2 linked regions of the Homo sapiens genome follow. The protein of the gene in region 1 purifies or fractionates together with the protein of each later gene. This does not show direct contact. Each region holds a gene or a part of one and is shown in the gene's direction. Other genes may lie near its edges.

The links.
Region 2: the proteins of BBS12 (region 1) and PTPDC1 purify together in Homo sapiens (affinity purification with mass spectrometry; one large-scale study listed by BioGRID and IntAct). This does not show direct contact.

The regions. Positions count from the first base shown.
Region 1 is NC_000004.12:122,742,693-122,745,756, forward strand, and holds the end of BBS12 (chaperonin-containing T-complex member BBS12), read left to right. Parts: coding exon 1-1,333; 3' UTR 1,334-2,247; downstream 2,248-3,064. UniProt on the Homo sapiens protein: Component of the chaperonin-containing T-complex (TRiC), a molecular chaperone complex that assists the folding of proteins upon ATP hydrolysis.
Region 2 is NC_000009.12:94,104,739-94,108,566, forward strand, and holds part of PTPDC1 (protein tyrosine phosphatase domain-containing protein 1), read left to right. Parts: intron 1-3,089; coding exon 3,090-3,206; 3' UTR 3,207-3,828. UniProt on the Homo sapiens protein: May play roles in cilia formation and/or maintenance.

The DNA.
Region 1 (3,064 bases):
TTTGGTAGAGTTGGCAGTAGGCTTGAGTCATGGAGATCACAGCAGCATGAAGTTAGTAGAAGAAGCAGTACAGCTGCAATATCAGAATGCTTGTGTGCAACAAGGCAACTGTACAAAACCATTTATGTTTGACATTTCAAGAATTTTCACTTGCTGTCTACCAGGCTTACCTGAAACTTCTTCTTGTGTTTGTCCAGGATATATCACTGTTGTGTCAGTATCTAATAATCCTGTGATCAAGGAATTGCAGAATCAGCCTGTGCGAATAGTTCTCATTGAGGGTGACCTCACAGAGAATTACCGCCACCTGGGATTTAATAAGTCTGCAAATATTAAAACAGTATTAGATAGCATGCGGCTTCAAGAAGACAGCTCAGAAGAACTGTGGGCAAATCACGTGTTACAGGTGTTAATCCAGTTCAAGGTGAACCTTGTCCTGGTACAAGGAAATGTGTCCGAACGCTTAATTGAAAAATGTATAAACAGTAAGCGGTTGGTAATCGGCTCAGTGAATGGCAGTGTGATGCAGGCTTTTGCAGAGGCTGCAGGAGCAGTACAGGTGGCCTACATTACACAAGTGAATGAAGATTGTGTGGGCGACGGGGTCTGCGTGACCTTCTGGAGAAGCAGCCCTTTGGATGTTGTAGATAGGAACAACAGAATCGCAATCTTATTAAAAACAGAAGGAATTAATTTGGTTACGGCCGTGCTCACTAACCCAGTTACTGCACAGATGCAAATCAAAGAAGATAGGTTCTGGACATGTGCCTATCGTTTGTATTATGCTCTAAAAGAGGAAAAGGTCTTCCTTGGAGGTGGTGCAGTTGAATTTTTGTGTCTTAGCTGTCTTCATATTCTTGCAGAGCAATCTCTGAAAAAAGAAAACCATGCCTGCTCAGGGTGGCTGCATAATACTTCCTCTTGGCTGGCTTCATCTCTGGCAATATACAGACCAACTGTGCTTAAATTCCTGGCAAATGGATGGCAGAAATACCTTTCAACTCTCCTATATAACACTGCCAATTACTCATCAGAATTTGAAGCCAGCACATACATTCAACATCATCTGCAAAATGCCACAGACTCTGGCTCTCCTTCATCTTACATCTTGAATGAATATAGTAAACTAAATAGTAGAATTTTTAATTCAGACATTTCAAATAAACTGGAGCAGATTCCGAGAGTTTATGACGTTGTTACACCAAAGATTGAGGCGTGGCGCCGAGCATTGGATTTAGTATTGTTAGTACTTCAGACAGACAGTGAAATAATTACTGGACATGGACACACACAGATAAATTCACAGGAATTAACGGGCTTTCTATTTTTGTAGTGTTACTGGCTAAGTCTTTGGAAAATAATTTTTCATAATATGTCATGCTAATAATAAATATATTGATAGCCAAGTCATGGTGCCTAAAATGCCAGCTATTGCCAAGAAGAAAATAGTTGATGTCTGTCAATAACTGTGCATGGTCTGAGATTTTACCCTACTTATAAGCTAACAAGTTAGCCTGTTACTGTTTCGTGGGATGCTACAGAATGCATAAGACACCTGGGTCAGAAACAAAGGACTTATCGCTCACAGCAAAAGCTGTAGCCAGAGCTTCATGTTGGTTTTATTCAGTTCCTCATTTTTCTAGTTCCCACAGGAGGAACACAAAGGGCCCATGATGAAAGCCTGCACACAGTGGGTTATGTTGTAAGCTTGGGTTATTAACTGCTTTTATAGTAAGCAAAAAAATCCTGGTCTTTGTCCAAAGGGAGTTATTACCCCATACTTGAAGATAGCTTAGTGTAAACACAAGCCTAGGACATGGACTAGGTAAAGACAAAGTCCTTGCATTCTTGACATACCCAGTAAGTATGCAGGGACACTCAGAGCCCATAGTGGATAGTCTCTTCCAACAGTCTGCTCCTCAGCCTGAGATGTTCTTGGCCAAACTTGAATTTTCACATGAGTATGCCACTCTATCAGCTACTCTGATTAACCTGACAGTCGGGTTGTTTAGTCAGTACCAAATTTGTTCATTTGGTCTCATATAGCAATTAATGCAGGCTATTATCAGACACAGCAGCAGGATGAAGCCAACCTGCAGTATTAACCTCAGTCCTGTCCCCCAAGGTCTTGACTCAATCAACTCTAAGTTCCAAGGGAGGACCAATAGGTCTTTTTATTAGGCAGCCAGAATGTAGTGAAGGACAATTTATTATACTTTATGACCCAATAAAGGGAGCTTTGACTGACGTACTGATATGTGGTGTTATTATCAATAATTATGGGTGCAATAGCTGGGCCAAAAAACAAACCTGTTCCCTATGGAGAGCCCTTCTATGGCTTATTTTCCCCACATACAAGTACATAAGCCCAAAGGGTCCAGGTTACTCTAGTTCAGAAGTATTGTCAAATCTGATTTAAATCATCATATGTGGATTTCAGTCACATAAGTAGTGTCACTGAGTAGTTGCAGCCTCGGTTGCTATACATGGTATAATCCAAGGCCACTCTGACAAATTTAGAGAAGCATAAGTTCAATCAGAATGAAACAAGGTTGTGCTGGTCCCTGTGTTTCTACATGTTCACATATGGGAGCCACCCATGATGGCATCATGTACTGCCTCCTATACTGGTAGAGTCTTAGTAAGGTGTTGAGCCTCCTTTTTGCTGGTGAGGCCAAAGAGACAGCATTTATTTGTTTCATTGCCAAAGGAATTGAGTGCTGTAAATCTCTCCAGTCTCAAAAAACGACTGGTCAAACAGGGCCCTAAATTTTGTCTGGGTTTACCAGCCATTCCTACTGGTAGAGATATGAAAACACCACAGTCAAAGCTGTTGGAAGTGGCTTCTGATTTCAACCACTGGAACATCATCTACAGTTGACCTTTGAACAACAGTGGACAGGGATGACAACGCCCTGCACAATCAAAAATCTGCATATAACATTTTTGGTTTTTTTGGAGACAGACTCTCCCTCTGTTGCCCAGGCTGGAGGGCAGTGGCGTGATCTTGGCTTACTGCAACCTCACCTTCTGGGTTCAAGCAATTCTCCTGCCTCAGCCTCCC
Region 2 (3,828 bases), on another chromosome or scaffold:
TGGGTGTAAGTAAGAAGCCATCTATTGAGAATTAAACATCCCACATTGCTAATTCAGTACTGAGTCCTGGTTGGCAAATCCTAAGGAAAGAGTTAAAAAAAAGGTTTCCTTTCTAAAAGCCCATCCTTTTGGATGCAGCAGTTTTTCCTGGCTGAAGAAAGAAGAAGCAGCCAGGTTCATACTGAGAGAAAAGTTTCCCCTTACCCCATCAGCTATAATTTGTTTATTACTTCTCATTGATATGAAAGTATCTATAATTTGTTTGTTACCTCTCATTGATATGAAAGTGTCATTAAACAAAGAACCCAGCTTTTGAATGACAACATCTGTGGTAACATTAATGATAAGAAGTTATTATTTATACTCATTAACAAGTTATAAAGATTCTTCCTTTTTAATATTTGTCCAGTCTCCTTCCCCTCCACTCTTTCCGGAGTGATGTTCTTACTTCAGGCCTTCCTTGTTCCTCATCTGGATTCTATGGCACTAACCACTGACATCTTTTCAATCTGTTCTCCACTGTTTCCAGAGTCAGTAGTCTCAAATCCAAACCGCGTGGTCCTTTACATCTGTATTTACACTTTCATAGACTGAGAGGCTACCCACCATGTGAAGAAGGTTGTGGTTTGGTGTTTAAGAAAGTAAACAGAGCTGGGAGTGGTGGCTTACGCCTGTGATCCCAGCACTTTGGGAGGCTGAGATGGGTGGATCATGAGATCAGGAGATTGAGACCATCCTGGCCAACATGGTGAAACCCCATCTCTACTAAAGTACAAAAATTTAGCTGGGCATGGTGGTGTGCGCCTGCAGTCCCAGCTACTCAGGAGGCTGAGGTGGAAGAATGGCTTGAACCCGGGAGGTGGAGGTTGCAGTGAGCCGAAATCGCGCCACTGCACTCCGGCCTGGCAACAGAGCGAGACTCTGTCTCAAAAAAAAAAAAAAAAAAGTGGCCAGGCATGGTGGCTCAAGCCTGTAATCCAAGCACTTTGGGAGGCCAAGGTGGGCAGATCACGAGGTCAGGAGATCAAGACCATCCTGGATAACATGGTGAAACCCCATCTCTACTAAAAAGAAATACAAAAAAATTAACTGGGTATGGTGGCAGGCGCCTGTAGTCCCAGCTACTCGGGAGGCTGAGGCAGGAGAATGGTGTGAACCCGGGAGGCGGAGCTTGCAGTGAGCCAAGATTGCACCACTGCACTCCAGCCTGGGCGACAGAGCAAGACTCCATCTCAAAAAAAAAAAAGTAAACAATTCACACCATTATTAATGTTAATAAGGAGTTTTTTGCAAAGGGGATAGATAATATAGTTATAGATAAAATTAAATTCCTGAGCTTAACTGAAAAAAATCCTTACGATTGGTCTCTCTGAAAGCAGTAGGAATTCTTTACAACTTCTTTTGGCCTTTTAAGGGGATACGAATGAAAAGTTAGAGATAACAGTTGTTCAAAATCTGTCTATAGAAAATGTTAGGAGACAGTTTTCCTTGGGTCTCTCATGTCTCTTCATAGTCTGATGAGCAGATGCCCTGACCACTCTCTTTGAGGATCAACTCTTCACTAATGTCTGGAGAGCTCTGCCTGGAGAGCAGAAGGCACACGTTCTGACTTCCAGGATAATAAAAATGTTTCCCTTCAGGGCAAAGGTTGGCAGATTTGCTTGCAGCCCCCTTGTGAAACATTGGAGTTTCCTAAGCTTGGGGCTCCTCAGCTATGAGGCAAACCCCGTGCTTGTGCAGCCTCCACCTAGGCCCTTCTGCATTGCCTCCATGAGACTTGAGAGACAAGGAGAACCCATGTGAACATGAAGCACATGCAGCTGTGAGAAATAAAAGTTGTCTGTCTCTGACCCAGGAATCTCGTATCTTCTACCAGTATCCATAACACTGGCAAGCTAACAGGTTAAGGTCTCAGATCCTTTACAGTTGTTGACAGAGGGAACAACCTTTCATTTGTCAAAATTTATCAGAGAGGGAGAAATTCCAGAAGCAGAGAAGCAGTGATTGTGTGACCCTGATTCTTTCCCAGGGAGTTACACATTACTCTGGGAATGGGGTTGAGGGTGGGTACTTGCTCTGGTTCTCTGTCCTGCCATCACTGCTAACCCAGAGTATGGTAAACTTGGGTGAAAAATGCAAATATGTGTAAATAGTGCGCTCCCATCAAGGGGAAAGGAAATTTACTTTATCAAGGTGGGGTTTGTTTGTTTGTTTGTTTGTTTGTTTGTTTTTTGAGACAAGGTCTCACTCTGTCACCCAGTCTGGAGTGCAGTGGCACAATCTCAGCTCACTGCATCCTCTGCCTCCTGGGCTCCGGCAATCCTCCCACCTCAGCCTCCCAAGTAGCTGGGACTACAGGCATGTGCCACCATGCCTGGCTAAATTTTTAATTTTTTGTAGAGATGAGGTTTTGCCATGTTGCCCAGGCTGGTCTCAACCTCCTGGGCTCAAGCAACTCTCCCACCTCGGCCTCCTAAAGTGCTGGGATTACAGGCATGAGCCACCACACCCAGCCAGTTGAGGTTTGTATATATGTGCCAAACATGTTAGACTCATAGATACGCTATCCTATGAAGGTGGGTATCATTATCTCTGTTTTACAAAGGAGGAGATCAAGGTCCAGAGAGGTTGGGTATGAGATGAGGACATGTAGCTGGCAGGTGGGGAGCTGGGCTTCTATTCAGGTCACTCTGACCCTGTCCAGAGTGGCCGTAGGGCCTCTCAGCAGGACGTATACAGCTGATGTGCTGTTTTAATATGGGAAACTTTTCTCTTATACCATCAATGATTAGTCTCAAAAAATTCACTTCACACCCACTGTTGACTTGCTTCATGACTGGGTGTATATAATTAGACTAAATATCCAGGCACTAGATTTAATTTTGGGGTTTTCATTCATAAGTTTGATATTGACATGGTTGGCAGTTCTAATAGTCTTTCAAATAAAATGTGTGAAATTTATTATGTGTATTTTATATAGAGTTTTGTTTGTAAGTCTGTTTTTTTTCTCCACCCCCTCCTTCTCTCAAAATAGAAACTAGTTCAAATTCTTGTTACAGTGTCCTGAATATAAATTTCTTTGTCACCAGGTTAATTTTGATTCTGAAAATGGACCAACAGTTTACAACACCCTGAAGAAAATATTTAAGCACACGCTGGAAGAAAAAAGAAAAATGACAAAAGATGGCCCTAAGCCTGGCCTCTAGCTTTCACTCGTGGTGAATATTTCAGACCTAAAGATCCAGATAGTATCTCTGTTCATATGTGAATAAGTTGAAGATTGTGGGGCTACTTTTTCTCATAGCACTTTATTTTGAATGTTGTTAGTTTGTGCTGAGAATGGTCGTCCGTATTTGAACCAATTATTTATTTTAAAATATATTTAAGCTACATTTTTGTTTTGAAAAATTGCCATAAATTTGGTGCCACTTTCTTTTATTTATTTGACTGAGTTAATATTATTGTATTAACATTTTAAGTATATGGTGTTTACATTCTTATTTCTTTTGACATTTTGGAAATAATCATAACTTGTCTTTCCAAAATAACCATTTTCTTGATGGAACTCTTCCTAGAGTTTTTACCAAATAGCTAACTTTAGTAGTAAAACCTCATTGTGTATCCATTCCCCCACAGATGAACTAAGAAAGTCACCAAGTGTCTTAAGCTGTTTTATATTTGTTACGAAGAAGGCTATTGCTACAATATTTTTAAAGGTTTCTTTTTTAACTTTGAAATTTTTTGTTTTTCCTTTTCTTTTTATAAATGTAACAGAGGGTTTCAAAGCATATTATTTTTCAGAGAGATTTAGTTTTACTTTAATGGAGT